Linked DNA regions of Homo sapiens. The protein of the gene in region 1 interacts with the protein of each later gene in a pairwise test. Each region holds a gene or a part of one and is shown on either strand. Other genes may lie near its edges.

The links.
Region 2: the proteins of ABLIM2 (region 1) and PANK2 interact in binary tests that used the Homo sapiens proteins (3 or more experiments, as listed by UniProt).

Annotation. Positions count from the first base shown.
Region 1 is NC_000004.12:8,147,390-8,155,813, forward strand, and holds part of ABLIM2 (actin-binding LIM protein 2), read right to left. Parts: intron 1-8,424. UniProt on the Homo sapiens protein: May act as scaffold protein. May stimulate ABRA activity and ABRA-dependent SRF transcriptional activity.
Region 2 is NC_000020.11:3,905,459-3,913,882, reverse strand, and holds part of PANK2 (pantothenate kinase 2, mitochondrial isoform 7 precursor), read right to left. Parts: intron 5,958-8,424; coding exon 5,605-5,957; coding exon of another isoform or gene 5,590-5,604; exon of another isoform or gene 5,258-5,589; intron 3,307-5,257; coding exon 3,053-3,306; intron 1,426-3,052; coding exon 1,249-1,425; intron 1-1,248.

The DNA.
Region 1 (8,424 bases):
CAGAAGATATCCCCATCTAATCGCTAAAACCTGTGACATATATGGTTAAAAGGGGAGGGGTCTTTGCAGATGTGATTTACATAAAGCGTCTAGAGACTGGGAGATGATTCTGGATGCTATGGGCGGGCTCTGAGTGCAATCTCAAGAGTCCTTATGGGGAGGAGGGAGCGGGAGACGACACACACAGGGGAGAAGTAGCATGAAGATGGAGCTGAGGGAGGTTTGAAGACTCTGCCTTGAAGATTGGAGCAACGTGGCCACAAACCTCAGAATCTGGCAGCCACCAAAGCTGCAGGGGTGAGGACTGAGCCTCCCCTGAGCCCCCGAGGGAGCTGCCAGCGCCGTTTAGCCTCGGACACTGACATTGAACTGCTGGCCTCCAGAGCTGGGAGGAAATGCCTTCTCTTGCTTTAAGCCTCCCAGCTTGTGGTCACTGGTGACCGCAGCCCCTAGACACTCACAGGTGGCCTTTGCCCAGCACTCTGGTTGTGCCATCTTCCCTGAGCGAGGCACGGACCTGCACAAAACCCTTTCTTTAATGGGTGAATCGCCCTTTAATCACGAAGTCAGCCCTAGGCCCAATATCCCAGAAGAAGGGGCACGAGTCAGGGCCCAGCTGCAGACCAACCCCAAACTCTGGTGTGGTTCCCTGAGGCCCAGGTGGGCAGGCAACAAGGGATAGTGGCCCGACCTTGCTGGGGGAGAAACCCCTCACCAAAGCCCACCATGCGCACCTTCCCCGGCAGAGAAGGGGTTTGGAGTGGCAGGAGGCAGGGGCAGAGGGAGAAAAGGAAGACGTGGCGGCGGTGCAGCAGAAGCTCTCCTGTGGGGGCCCTGGGCCAGGCAGGTTCTGAAGGGCCCAGTGTGTCTGGAGGGGAGAGGATGAGCTGGTGGATGAGAGGGCTGCAGCTGCAGGTGACCTAAGCAGCACTGTGGGCCTGCGGAGGCCTCCCCACTGGATTCCAGAGGGGGCTCTGGGCCTACAGTGAAGCAGGGCCCACAGGAGGTGAGGGAGCCGCTCAGGACGCGGGGGGGCCATGGCGCACCACAGTTAGGAGTGCGGGTTCTGCAGCTGGCACGGTGCTTCTCAGCCGAATCACCTCGGGAGAGTTACCTAATTCCCTGGGCCTCCGTTTGCTCACCTGTGAAGTGGGAATACTGGTAGTCCCGAGCAAGGAGCTCTGATGTAAGGATTATAGGGTGAAAGCACATCGCGGTGCTGGGTCCACACTGGGGAAGCGCGTAAGCCGTTCCCCCGTGGGCATGCACAGCAGAGTCCTGCTTGCCTGGAAGCAAATGCTACATCCCAAGGTGTCCATTGCCCCAAACCACACAGGAACTCAGAGTCGGAAAGATCCTCTAGGACAAGCCCAACCCCAACAGAGATGAGGAGGCCAAGGCTCAGGGGGTACATGGCCTGGGCTGGTTCCTGGACCCCCACCTCTCCATGAGACCACCCCTATCTCCTCCCAGAGCTGCTGATGTACCAAGAAACCTGGGCTCCGCAGGCACCCGGGAGATCAGGCCACGCCAGGACCCGGGATCTGGAGGCACCAGGGAGAGTCCAGCTGTGCCAAGGCCCAGGGTCCCCAGACACTACGGAGAGTCAGGCCACGCTGAGATCTGGGGTCCCCAGATACCAGGGCAGATCCAGCCAGAGTGTGAAGGGGTCTGTAGGGCTGGGGCCATCTGGAGGCTCCGGGGGAGATCCACTTCCGTGCCTCTTCCAGCTTCTAGGGGCACCCGAGTTTCTTGGTGTGGGGCCCCTCCCTTCATCCTCAGAGCCAGGCGTGGAGACTTCTCTCTCCTCTCTGCTGCCTCCTGCCTCCCGTTAGCGAGAAGCCTCAGGCCCCCTGAAATCCAGAGCAGTCTCCCTGTGGCAAAATCCTTCACATAGTCGCATATGAACAGTCATTTTGCCGCATGAGGTCACATAGTCACAGGGCCTGGGATTAGGACATGGGCACCTTTGAGTCCACTGTTCAGCCCCCCAACACCATCCAAGAGGAGGTATTTCAGAGAGGGCAGGTCCCAGCTCCAGGCTGCAGAGCAGGCAGGAGCAGGCACAAATCTCCACAGGAAACCCCAGCTTGGTCTGTGTCCACAGGTTCAGAGGAAGGAGGGAAGCAGAGGGCCTAGAGATGGGAAGAAAGCTTCACAGAGGCCCTGGAGTCCGGCAGAGCCTTGAAAGGGAGAGGAGGAGGGACTCCAGGGGAGCGGGGGCAGGCAGAAGGCGGCAGGAAGAATGCAAGGCTGTTGGGGGATCAGGGCAAAGACAGCACATAGTAGGTGCTTAATAAATAGTCGTGGAGGGACAGAAGGGACATTCTGGAAGAGCTCTGAGCCCTTGGGAGGCTGTTGACTGCTGGACACAGAGAAGGCCCGGACCTAGGCTGAGACTTCCCCAGCACCTCACACTCAGGACTGGCCCTGCGCCCAGACAGGACGGGGCCTATGGAGTAAGACCCCACACAGCCGGTCCCTCTGTGGGACGATTCAGAGGCTCCCAGTGGGACTGAGTCCCCACTTGCCAGAGTGGTGGCCCCCATCCAAATGCCCCCTCCTGGCTTCCCCTCCCTTCCCCCCTTACCCTCCTCACACCTCCCTCGTGCTTCCTGGGGTCACCTCCTAGGTAAACCACCTGCACCCAAGTTCCCACTGCACCTACTCAGGGAGCCTAAATGGAGAGAGTTGTGGGGCAAAGGGGTTGGAACATCATGAGGGCATTTGAAACTAGGCTGCCAGGTTGAAGGTCTGGATGCTCCTTGGAATTCTTCCTTCTGGGCACTTCGTGTCCAGCTGCAGCATCAACTGATGTCATTTTCCATGTGCGATCCCGGGGACACTGAGGTCTGCAGAAGCAGAGGGTCAGAGAGACAGGCCAGGCTGTCTTATGGAATGACGGCAGACAGATGAGGAGGCCATGCTGAACTGGGGACGGAGTTCCACCCATCACACATCCTCCACTCCTTGGGTGTTCACGAAATGCCTCCTCTCATTCTACCTGAGTGGCTTTCAGGGGAGCCAGTACAAGGCCCCATCGTGCCCTGAGGACAGACGCCAGCGAGGACAGAGGCAGCATGCTAGCCGCAGTGACACTGAGCACTTTTCTTGGTGCGCTGGCTGGACTCACATTTCCAGATCGTCTCTCTAACTCGTCTCTCTAAGCACAGAGAAACCAAAGTCCCAAACTTCCAGCACAGGGTGCGAGCTCCGTGCCGGAGGCGGGAGGAGCCACTGCTGCTGCCTGGGATGGGGGCTGCTCAGTAGAATGCAGCTAAAATGAAGCTTCGAGCTGAGACCGATGACTCAAGACACCACGCCTCCTGAGGATGCTGTGCCGAGAAAACCGGGAGCTGGGTGGCTCTCTGGAGACGGTGCTTCTCCTGGCACTGGGCTGCAGCCTTGTAACCAGGACTGAGATGGGGCTGGCAGGGGAGACAGCAGGACCAGAGAAGGGGAGGGGAAGCTATGAACCCAGCCTAGGGTGTGGCTGATGATGCCAAAGCGGCTCCCACGGGGCACGACGTCAGGTTTGTCCCTGAGCTGTGAAGGGTATTTACAGCTGTGACAAAGGCCATTCTGCCCGTTCCCTGGTGCCTGCCGTGCCCAGGCCCTTGACTCTCACTCAGCATCTCTGAGTCTACAGTAACCCCTCAAAAGCAGCTGTCATCACCTGTACTTTTTATGTGGGGAAACTAAGGCAAAGGGCATTTAAACAATCCGCTTGGAGAAACACACAACTAGCAAGTGACGATTGGGGCTGGAGCCCAGGTGTGCCCAGCCCCAAAGCCAGTGCATCTTCTGAGGCACCCAGACTGGCCCCCTCACATTTGGAAATGTTCAGCCAAGGGAAGTGACATGAAGCCACCCAGCTCGTTATCCGCAGCAGACCTGTTTGTTGTAGGCCTGGAAGCTGCTGATGGCGAGAAGCCCCAGAGCCAGCCCTGGCACCCACAAGGACCAGTGAGCGTCCCAGAATCCAAAGCCCCCTCCTCCGCCCCAGTCCTTCCCACAGACGCGAGGGACCCAGCTGCCCTCCTAGCTCGAGCTCCAGGCAGACATCCACAGAAGCTGCTAATCCACAGGCGGCAAGGCACCTCCCTCCACGCCAGAGACCCTCAGCGTGAGGCCCAAGTACTGCTCACCCAGCTGGGAGCATCTCGAGAGCCAGATGAGAAAGGTGGGCGCAGCAGGGTCCCTAAAATGGCAGCCAGGCCTCACACCCAAACAGTGGGCGGGGTGGGGCGGTGGTGTCAGAAGAAAGCAGGGTTGTACCCCGAGGATGGCAGTGGCCCTGTTTTTACAGATGGGTACACTGAGGCACAGAGGGACGATGACTTGTCCAAGGTCACAGAGGTCCAGGCGAGGGGCTGGAGACGCTGCTGGGCTGGGCTGTGTAAGCAGGGGGAGAGGCACTGCCTTCAGTGGAACAGATGGGCCCTGGGGGGATTGCAGGACTTGGGGTGGGGGTGGGGGAGTCGGAGCAGAGGGTCAGGGTTCCAGGGGGGCACATGGGCTCAATGTGGTGAAAGTCCTTCTCAGGCCCAGGCTATCTGAGGGTGAGTCACAGAGGCCATGCAATGACGCTAGGCAGGAACCCCCATAGGAGGCGGGTTTGGGTCTTGTCCTGCCTCCTGGCTCTGTGCTGGCAGGTCCCGCAGCTGGAAAATGGGAATAACACACCACGGCCCAGGCGAGAAGATGGGCTGTGTGAGACCCTCACCAAGAAGCGCCATCATGATGCCCCCAAACGGGCCAGGCTTTATCCACACCAACACTCAGCCACGCGTTATGAGGCAGCAACCAATCCCCCACAGCCACCGGCTAAAGCACGCAGGCAGGGGATAGGCAGACAGCGCCCGCCTAGCCAGGGATACGCGTGTTGCGGCTGAGTCGGGCACACTGGGGTTCAAATCCCAGCGCTGCCATTTACAAATCACGTGACACCAGGCACCAGACGGGACTCGCAGGCATTTCTTCCTCCGTAGGTAGAGATGCCACCGGCCGCTCCGAGCAGCGCTGCGAGGACCCCGGGAGGAAACCTATACGAGCATCTGGCCCAGGGCCCCAGGGCGGCACTTGATGAGCCGCAGTCTCTGCGACATTTAAGCCTGTCCCACCTGGGTGCTGCCCGACACCCTAGACACCCTGAGCAGCCCTGGCGATGGAAAAATTCCTTGAGTAAATTAAGACTGCTCGACTCGGGTTGCTCTGTGCTGGGTGCGAGCCTCGGAGGTCTGCTCTTTCGGGGCTTCCCCGGGACTGGGACAGCCGCGTCCATCATGCGGGGATGACTGCAGGACCCATGTGATCAGCCTCAAGCACTAGGAGCTATCCCAGGACATGACCCATGTTTTCCTATTGCAACTATTTTAACAACCTCTGTGAGCCTCTACCACGTGCCAGGCAGAGACTGGTCAGCTCATGAGACCCTCAATCCCTACCAAGACTCTGGGGAGGGGCAGCAATGGAAAGAAGGACACAGAGGTCTTATCTTTGATCATGCTAGCAAGTGGCAGGGCTGGGTGTGAGCCTGAGACCCCACTTCAAGGTAGGTTTTACGGAGCCCTACCCAGGCAGAGGCACAGCCAAGGGGTGCAGCAAGGAAGGGCCCTAAGTATCTTTGCAGGGAAGGGACTATGGAATCTAGGCTCTGGGGTTGGTTGATGGCATCAGGCCAGCAGCCTGATCTGGCTTCAAGGATAGGCAGTGCCCGCTTAAAGGGCCAGCGACAAGACAGGCCCCTTCATCTCCCAGTCTTGCCAATTTCCTCTCGAGCTCAGAGGTCTCCCGTGACCCAGATGATGCTCTGGAAGCCCAGGGTGCGGGCCAGGCAGCTTTTCCATGAGTCAGGGACACACACCTTTTTCTGGGACAGTAAGATTGAACTTTCCAAGAGTTCATCAAACTCAAGACTTGATTCTACAAAATATCCTATCTACCCCCAAACCATCTCATTGACAGAAACCATAAAGAGTCAAAGGATCTTGAGTGGCCAGGTTAGGAAGGAACCCTGCACATCACGGAAGAACAGGGCAGAGCTTGGGGGTGACCAGGTTAAGCGGAGACTGCCAATGCCTGGGCAACGGCAGTCCTCTCCAGATACAATCTCAGATGAATTTCTGGGTCAGGGGGGTCTGGCTTCTGCTGCACCTCATTCAGAGTGGAGTCAGGCAGGGAAAATCTGCAGCAGTGCAGCTGCCTGTGCTAAGCTCCCTCGATGCTGGGAGACACCCCCATCCCACGCAGCAGATAGTGGCCCTGCAGAACGGAATCGCCGGGCTTCTCCCGGAGTGATGGGTTTCTACCAGCGCTGGAGGCAGAGTGTGCTCTCTTCTTTCCATTTGATCTTTCAGTACAAAAGAAAAGGGCACACAATGAAGAAAACTTGGAAAACACATGGAAAGTAAAAAGGTGCAGAAGACGGAAAACTTTGTTCCTTCTCCCACATCTTACAGATGGGCACCGACGGCACTTCCCGACATTGCCTCCCTCACTGTTTCTGTAGAGTTGACATCCTATATGAAATACAATTTTGTCCTGAGCTGTTTTCTAAATTAAACTTCTTTTCTTTTTTTTTTTTTTTTTGAGATACAGTCTCACTCTGTCGCCCAGGCTGGAGTGCAGTGGCGTGATCTCGGCTCACTGCAAGCTCTGCCTCCCAGGTTCACGCCATTCTCCTGCCTCAGCCTCCCGAGTAGCTGGGTCTACAGGCACCTGCCACCACGCCCAGCTAATTTTTTGTATTTTTAGTAGAGATGGGGTTTCACTGTGTTAGCCAGGATGGTCTCCATCTCCTGACCTTGTGATCCACCCGCCTCGGCCTCCCAAAGTGCTGGGATTACAGGCGTGAGCCACCGCACCCAGCCACTTATTTTCTTTTCTTTTCTTTTTTTTTTTTTTTTTTGGAGACAGAGTCTTGCTCTGTCACCAGGCTGGAGTATAGTGGCACGATCTCAGCTCACTGCAACCTCTGACTCCCTGGTTCAAGCGATTCTCCTGCCTCAGCCTCCTGAGTAGTGGGGATTACAGGCACCCACCACCACACCCAGCTAATTTTTGTATTTTTAGTAGAGATGGGGTTTCACCATGTTGGCCAGGATGGTCTCAATCTCCTGACCTTGTGATCCACCCGCCTCGGCCTCCCAAAGTGCTGGGATTACAGGCGTAAGCCACCGCACCCGGCCAATTAAACCTGTTTTCTTAAGCATTTTCTCCTAACATTAGAAATTCTTTACATATGTAGTTAATTCTTCATGTGGGTAGTAACTTCATATACATCTTCCCCACCGCCCAATTAGAATGTAAGTTCAAGAGAACATAGATTTTGGGTTGTTCTCGTCTGTTGCTGAATCCCAGGGCCTGGAGCAGCGTGGGCTCACGTATTAGTCTGTTCTCATGCTGCCAATAAAGACATACCCAGGACTGGGTAATTTGTAAAGGAAATAGGTTTCATGGACTTACAGCTCCACATGGCTAGGGAGGCCTCGCAATCATGGCGGAAGACGAAGGAGGGGCAAAGGGACGTCTCACATGGCAGCAGGCAAGAGAGCGTGTGCAGGGGAACTGCCCTTTATAAAACCACCAGCTATCGCCAGCCTTAATCACCACCATGAGAACAGTATGGGGGAAACCACCCCTGTGATTCAATTATCTCCACCTGGCCCTGCCCTTGACACGTGGGGATTATTACAACTCAAGGTAAGATGTGGGTGGGGACACAGCCAGACCGTATCAGCTCATAGTAGGCATTTTGTGCATCTTTGCTGAATAACGAGTGAGTGAGATGGAACAGATGGCTCATATTCCATCACTGGCTTCCACGGTTTGGTGGTTTCTAACATTTTGTTGTTACTAGTAAGTCTGAGATGAATGTTTCTGTGGCTACATCATTGCCCATTCTTGGATTAGGTGAAGAAATGTGTCTCTGTTCCAAATACTAGGATCTGCACCGTCCACAGTCTGGGGACTAGGGCTCAGGTTCGGGCTCTGCCACATCCTCTCCTTGGCCCTGGACAGCTGCTTTTCCTTCCCTAAACCTTGGTTTCCCCCTTTGTGCAGGTGGGTGGGTTTGGGCTGGAACATTCCTCATGTCCCTTCCAGTTCCATGATCCTAAGAGCAGCATGGAAACAGAAGGCTGAGCCAGCCACAAGGCCGCCCTTGGCCCCGCACCCCTGTTATGGACTGAATTGTCTAAATTCATATGCTGAAGTCCTAACCCCCAGTACTCCAGGATGTGACTATGCATGGAGACAGGACCTTTAAGGAGACCACTAAGGTGAAACGAGGTCATGAGGGTAGGCTCTAACCAAGTCTGGCTGGGGTTTTCATAAGAACAGATTAGGACACAGACACACACAAAGGGAAGACGGGACGAGGACACAGACACACACAAAGGGAAGACGGGGCGAGGACACAGA
Region 2 (8,424 bases), on another chromosome or scaffold:
CAGGAGCTAGAGCTTGCAGTGAGCCGAGATCACGCCACTGCACTCCAGCCTGGGCGACAGACCAAGACTCCGTCTCAAAAAAAAAAAAAAAATATATATATATATATGTGTGTGTGTGTGTGCATACATACAAAGACTTACATATAAATGTTCAACATTATAACCAAAAAATGGAAACAACCCAAATGTTCATCAACCAATAAATGGATAAAATGTAGTATTATCCACGTAATGAAATATTATGTGGCAGCCGGGCGCGGTGGCTCACACCTGTAATCCTAGCACTTTGGGAGGCTGAGGCGGCAGATCACCTGAGTTCGAGACCTGCCCGGCCAACATGGAGAAATCCTTTCCCTACTAAAAAATACAAAATTAGCCAGGCTTGGTGGCGCATGCCTGTAATCCCAGCTACTCAGGAGGCTGAGGCAGGAGAATTGCTTGAACCTGGGAGGTGGGGGTTGTGGTGAGCCGAGATCACGCCATTGCACTCCAGCCTGGGCAAAAAGAGTAAAACGCCGTCTCAGAAAAAAGAAATATTATTTGGCAATAAAAAGGAATAAAGTACTGATTCACACTGTAATGTGAATGTTTGAAAACATATGCTATATGAAGAAGTAATCACAAAAGATCATATACTGTATGATACCACTTATATGAAATGTTCAGAAGAGGCAAACCTACATTGAAAATAAATTACTGTTTGGCAGGGGCTGTGGGGGGAATGGAGAGTCGTAGCTAATGAACACAAGGTTTCTTTCTAGGATGATAAAAATGTCCTAAAATTGGGATTACAGTGATGGTTGCACAATCCTGTAAATATACTAGAAACCACTAAATTGTACGCTTCAAACAGCTGACTTTATAGTACGTAAATTATATCTCAATAGAGCTTTTTTAAAAAATATGCCCAATATTATTATTTTATGTCTTTTTTTTTTTTTTTTTTTTTTTTGAGACAGAGTCTCACTCCGTTACCTAGGCTGGAGCTCACCGCACCCTCCACCTCCAGGGTTCAAGTGATTCTCCTGCCTCAGCCTCCCAAGTACCTGGGTCTACAGGCGCGCACCACCATGCCTAGCTAATTTTTGTATTTTTAGTAGAGACAGGGTTACACTATGTTGGCCAGGCTGGTCTCAAACTCCTGACCTCATGATCTGCCCATCTCGGCCTCTCAAAGTTTTGGGATTAAAGGCATGAGCCACCGCGCCCGGCCCGCCTGTATTTCTTAGAACACACATGCCCCCTTACCTTGAAGCCACAGCCCAGCCTGGCAGTCCAAACCTCTCATAGTCCCCTCCATAAATATCTCGTACTAGTTTATCCACTTTGGTGCTATCTCCACGAGATGCCATTTCAAGAGCTTCTTCAAAAGTGGTACAGCCAGTAAGAAGACAGCAGAGACCAAAAAAAGTTCCTCCTCCAAGACTATGATTAAAAACAATTAACACAGTATTATAACATTTTTAAAAATAAGAACAAGAAGTTAACATTTATGAACCCCAAAACCATATTCACATATCCAACCCAATCATGCAAATGCCACTGGTAGGAAACAAGTCTGTGAAAAGATAAGGTGCCTGATATACACCTTTAAGGTACATATGCATGTGAGCCAACATGCAAAGTACAAAACACAGGGCCCATGTCCCCAGTGCAGTCTGGCTGTCTGCCAAGTATGAAGAGCCTCAGGTGCAAATTAGCCTGACACGCCTGGGGCCATGCTAACACCTCCTCCCTTTCCCTTCTCCAAGTACATTCCCTGAGTCATTCTCATCCAAGCACCTTGTCACCCTGGCTTATCAGTACACCCCCAAACATACTCCTCCTGCAACGTGTTTTGTCACAAAAAAATTACTCCTCTATTTAAATCACAACTGTTTTTTTAAAAAAATTGTTTATCCCAATCCCTAGATGCCTGTTTTTCCTGAAGTGACCTCTGACCCTTAAGCCGAAACATTCTCTTCTTCCATCTAATCCTCATTTTTTTTTTTTGAGATGGAGTTTAGCTCTTTTTGCCCAGGCTAGAGTACAATGGCACGATCTCGGCTCACCGCAACCTTTGCCTCCTGGTTCAAGTGATTTTTCTGCCTCAGCCTCCCAAGTATATGGGATTACAGGCATGTGCCACCACGCCCGGCTAATTTTGTATTTTTAGTAGAGATGGGGTTTCTCCATGTTGGCCAGGCTGGTCTCGAACTCCCGACCTCTGGTGATCCACCCGCCTCGGCCTCCCAAAGTGCTGGGATTACAGGCATAAGCTGCCGTGCCTGGCCCTAATACTCTCTTTTCTTTTTTTTTTGAGACGGAGTCTCACTCTGTCACCCAGGCTGGAGTGCAGTGGCATAATCTCGGCTTACTGCAACCTCCACCCTCTGAATTCAAGCAATTCTCCCACCTCAGCCTCCCGAGTAGCTGGGATTCACAGGCGCCTGCCACTGCGCCCGGCTAATTTTTGTATTTTTAGTAGAGATGGGGTTTCACCATGTTGGCCAGGCTGGTCTTGAACTCCTGACCTCATGATCCACCCGCCCCAGCCTCCCAAAGTGCTGGGATTACAGGCATGAGCCACCACGCCCGGCTAATCCTCTCTTTTCATACTACCTTCCCTCAATAATTTTTCTACTGATCAGTACATATCAACTTCTAAATCACATACATAGAATACATCATTATTCTACACACACATGTGTGTGGAAGCATGAAATTTACACAGGTTTCAGAGCTAGGTCCTTTCCCGTGCCTTCTCCTTACAGATGCTGCCTAATAACTTTAGCTACTTTGTGTATGCACACCATAAACTATCTGAGGGCAAAGGCTACAATGAGTCTGCTGATGTGATCTTTTAAGAAACACCTAGGATAATAAATCTTGAACAGTAGAGATTAAAGAAAACTAGGTCATAAAATCAGAATTTTCAAAGAGAAACATTTGTTTGCATAATCCAGAAACACTTTCACCTAACAGGTTCTTGAAGGTGTAGTTACATGTAATACCTGAAAACTCAGCCCGTTAGGATACTAAGAATAAACAGTGAGTTTTATATACAACTTACCTAGTACCTGTGACCCGTTTGTAATTATCTTTGGAATATACTGCTAAGATGCTAACCCCTGAGCCAATGTTCACCAGAAGCAGAGGATACGGATTTTTCAAATCAAATGGTAACTTCTGACACTTTTCAGAATCAGCAGGGTTTTCAAAGTAATAGCACTGTGACCGTCCATTGAATCCGACTGAGTCAATGTATAAAATTCCTTTGATCAAGCAATCTAGTTCATCCAGTTTGCAAAGCTGAAGATCACCTATCTGTAATGAAATAAGAATGTACTCAGACTTTTTAATAAGCCAACAGAAACAAAAATTCCATTCAATAAGGCATCCCCACTACGTGAAACAACCATGAAAGTGCACTCACAGATGTGTATTATTTGTGCATGCTTTACAGAACAGATTTAGGAGCAAACCTAGGGACACAGTGCTGAGACAGACTCCTGCTACTACAGACCCAAATACACTCTACATAGAAACTACTGCAGCAGCTGAATAAGTGTGACCAAAAAAAAAACAAAAAAAACAAAAAAAAAAAACCACAGCATTTATCAACCTTCAAACAGAAATTCAGATCTCTGCTTACAGGGACAATGGGGCTGATACCAAGCTCAGGCCACAGCACTATCAGAAACCACCTTGTGACACAGGGTGGGAGCCACAAGGACTGTGACAGAGGACCATCTCAAGGCTTTGGAGCAGTATCAAAAGAGGCCACACATTATTTAACAAACTGAAGCCAAAAGGCTGAAAGTATCCAGTTAGAAGGTAAGATTTTTTTCACTATCTAAACTAGCTACAGCCTCTTGGGAGGGAGGGGAATTTTAGCAGTCAAAATTTGAACTGTTTCATAATCAATTAATTCCATTTAAATAATAAAGGAATGACTAAATTATTATTCGTATTATGGAGCACTGTATAGCAACTAAAAATGAAGAGGATCGGCCGGGCACGGTGGCTCACGCCTATAATCCCAGCACTTTGGGAGGCTGAGACAGGTGGATCACAAGGTCAGGAGTTCAAGATCAGCCTGGCCAACATGGTGAAACCCAGTCTCTACTAAAGATAAAAAAAAAAATTAGCTGGGTATGGTGGTGCACGCCTGTAAACCCAGCTACTCGGGAGGCTGAGGCAGGAGAATCTCTTGAACCCAGGAGGCAGAGGTTGCAGTGAGCTGAGATGGCACCACTGCACTCCAACCTAGGTGACAGGGCGAGACTCCGTCTCAAAACAAAACAAAAATGAAGAGGATCTTTATGTTCTGAAGTGGGAAGAACTCCAAGGCATGTTAGTCAAAAAGTTGAGGCCAGGAACGGTGGCTCACACCTGTAATTCCAACACTTTGGGAGGCCGAGGCAGGCAGATCACTTGAGGTCAGGTGTTCCAGACCAGCCTGGACAACATGGTGAAACCCCATCTCTACTAAAAGACATGCAGAATAACAGGCAGAATCTGGGCCGGGCAAGGTGACTCACCCCTGTAATCCCAGCACTTTGGGAGGCTGAAGCAGGCAGATCACCTGAGATCAGGAGTTCGAGACCAGCCTGACCAACATGGAGAAACCCTGTCTCTACTAAAAATACAAAATTAGCCGGGCGTGGTGGCACATGCCTGTAATCCCAGCTACTTGGGAGGCTGAAGCAGGAGAATCGCTTGAACCCGAGAGGTGGAGGTTGTGTTGAGCCATTGCATTCCAGCCTGGGAACAAGAACAAAACTCCATCTCAAGAAAACAAAACAAAACAAAAAGGCAGAATCTCTTTCAGACTAATATTCTCTCATTTAGCAACAGAAAAACAGTCAGTCACTGAAGACATTTTCAATCTGTATTGCACCCTGACGGTCAGGATCTTGGCTTATTCATTTGTCAGTTCTCCGGCCTACCCCCACCATCCACCCTGAAAGGACCTAGCCTCAAGGTCTTGCTCACAATGTTCTCCAGTGTTCACTCAATGAAAGCAAGATAGAGCGCCTGGCAGCATTCCCCAGGGGCCAGACATGGTGGCGAGACTCCAGTTAAGTGTGCAGCACAGAACACATCAGAAAGCATTCTGGGAGAGGAGGGCTCTGCAGTCACCCATCTCAGACCAGCCCTGAGCCTGAAAACACCACTTTTGACCAGAGTTCCTTATTTTTTTCAGTTAGTGAACATGCCAGCAAACAACTGAGGGAGACAAGAGAAATTATGTGGTAGACAAGACTGAAAACAATTTTATGACATGAAATGATTTTAATTATATTTCAATCTCATTGTTCATGATCTAATGATGTTCCTTTTAGGTAGTTTCTTCCTCAACGTATAGCAGATGCCCTAATTTTTCATACTAAAGGAGCAATAAAATGCTACCCTTTTAGTGGTTCTGATTGTCGTCCATACATCTGAACTAGACAACCACCTCTAGATGGCCAACTCCTATCACTAGCGTACCTTTAATCTTCATTTGACTCAAGAAAATTCAAGTTCCATTAGAGATGGAAATTATTTCACCACTTGCTACTGGCATTATTTTTAACAATCAAATTACCATAAATTGTATATAAGCTAAAAAATGCATACTGTGAGAAAATCCTGCTCAAATTTGTACGCTCCACCTCCAGTGGCACAAAAGACAGTGTGGAGACTCGAGAAGTTTTTATCTCTGCCCATTTGAATAAAAGCAGGCATGTCATGAGTGGGAAAGCGTATAAAGTGCAGATTGCCTTTGCGTCCACACAGAGTCAGGTCCTTCAGCTCGAGGTGCACGTCCCGAATGCCTGTAGACCCATAAGCCACATTGGAGGTCAGGTACTTCCGAATGCTTTTAAGACTTTCCACTTCTTCCTCTTCTTCTTCAGCAGTGATGTCTTTGGGTTCAAAATATACCAGCTTGACCAGAGTTCCACCGATATCCAGTCCAAACCATGGAAAAACTAAATGGGGAAGAAAAATAAGTCAGAACAGCTTTTTTCTGAAAATTAAATTTACCCTTACCACAGTAGCAACTTATTTCAAACGCTAGGGTTTCCAAAGAACATAATTCTAGGCAAAAGGGTTTTGGGGCAAAGAAATGTGATTCTGTCTTGATTTAGATGCATAACTTAAAAAAAAAATACTACGGCAAAGACGAAAAAGAAAAATATCAAAGTATTGAGCCAACCCAACCATTCTGTCAGACAAGCGCAAACCGCACTATGAAGTGTTTTAAAAATAACAAGATGACTACTCGTAAGCCTCAACTGTGAAAAACAAAGATTCAGAATGAAAATCTCTCTTTCCTATCGGCTTAAAAAAAAACATTGAGACTTCAGAGTTCTGGTTTAGCAGCAAACTAGAAACAGGAAATTCCCAAACCTATGTAACATATAACCTCCAATGGTCAATTTATCTTTCAAAATCTGATATTCCAAAAATAAAAGGTTTCAATAGACATTAACACCGGTTCCCAAAATGTCCTTTAGGCCAAGCGCAGTGGCTCACACCTGTAATTTCAACACTTTGGGAGGCCAAGGTGGGTGGATCACCTGAGGTCAGAAGTTTGAGACCAGCCTGACCAATATGGTAAAACCCCATCTCTACTAAAACAAAAATTAGCCAGGCATGGTGACGTGCACCTGTAGTACCAGCTACTCAGGAAATCTAAACCAGAACTGCTTCAACCTGGGAGGTGGAGACTGCAGTGAGCTGAGATCACACCACTGCACTCCAGCCTGGGCGACAGAGTGAGGCTCTGTCTCAAAAAAAAAAAAAAAAAAAAAAGGCAGGGCTGGGCACGGTGGCTCACGCCTGTAATCCCAACACTTGGGGAGGCTAAGGCAGGTGAATCACAAGGTCAAGAGACCAAGATCATCCTGGCCAACATGGTGAAACTATCTCTACTAAAAATACAGAAATCAGCTGGCTGTGGTGGCGTGCGCTTGTAGTCCCAGCTACTCCGGAGGCTGAGGCAGGAGAATCGCTTGAACCCATGAGGCAGAAGCTGCAGTGAGCCAAGATCGCACCACTGCACTCTAGCCTGGCGACAGAGTGACACTCCGTCTCAAAGAAAAAAAAGGCCTGAAGAGATTGGATCAAAGTGGACTGCACAGACATATGGAAGGTCCCAATTTAATGAGGGCTCAAAGTAATGATTTTTCAAATTTACAATGGTGCAATAAGCATTCAGTAGAAACTCTACTTCAAGTATTTATTGTTTTTTTTATTTTTAGTACAGTATTCAATAAATTACAAGATATTCGACATTTTATTGTAAAATAATTATCTTTTATATTATTCATTATTAAATCATCTAGCTTTATGCTAGAAGATTTTGCCCAACTGTAGGCTAATATAAGGGTTCTAAGCACATTTAAGGTAGGTTTGGCTAAGCTATGATGTTCAATAGGCTGGGTATATTAAATGCATTTTGACTTACAGTATTTTCTTTTTCTCTTTTTTGAGGTAAGGTCTCACTGTCACCCAGGCTAGAATGCAACGCCACAATCTCAGCTCACTGCAACCTCTGCCTCCTGGGCTCAAGTAATCCTCCTATCTCAGCCTCCTGAGCAGCTGGGACTAAAGGTGCATGCCACCACACCCACCTAATTTTTGTATTTTTTGTAGAAACAGGGTTTCCCCATGTTGCCAGGCTGGTCTTGAACTCCTGGGCTCAAGCAGTCCACCCAGGTCAGCCTCCCAAAGTGCTGGGATTACAAGTGTGAACCACTGCGCCCAGCCTGATTTACAGTATTTTGAACTTCTGATGGGTTTATGGAATGTAGCATAAACATCGTAAGTCAAAAAGCATCTGTACATGCTTCCCCTCCCAATCTAAATCGTAGAAATTACTAAAGATGTGGGTTTAGGCCGGGCACGGTGGCTCACACCTGTAATCCCAGCACTTTGGGAGGATGAGGAGGGCAGATCACCTGAGGTCAGGAGTTCAAGACCAGCCTGGCCAACATGGTGAAACCCCCATCTCTACTAAAAATACAAAATTAGCCGGGCGTGGTGGCGGGCACCTGTAATCATAGCTACTCAGGAGGCTGAGGCAGGAGAATTGCTTGAACCCGGGAGGTGGAGGTTTCAGTGAGCCAAGACAGCACTACTGCACTACAGCCTGGGTGACAGAGCAAAACTCCACCTCAAAAAAAAAAAAAAAAGGGTGTGGGTTTATTGATATATTTGATATATTATTTTCTAAAATAATTCTGGGAAACAAGAAGAGATAGCAGGCCGGGTGTGGTGGCTCACGCCTGTAATCCCAGCACTTTGGGAGGCCGAGGCGGGAGGATCATGAGGTCAGGAGATCGAGACCATCCTGGCTAACAAGGTGAAACCCCATCTCTACTAAAAATACAAAAAAATTAGCCGGGCGTGGTGGCGGGCGCCTGTAGTCCCAGCTACTCAGCAGGCTGAGGC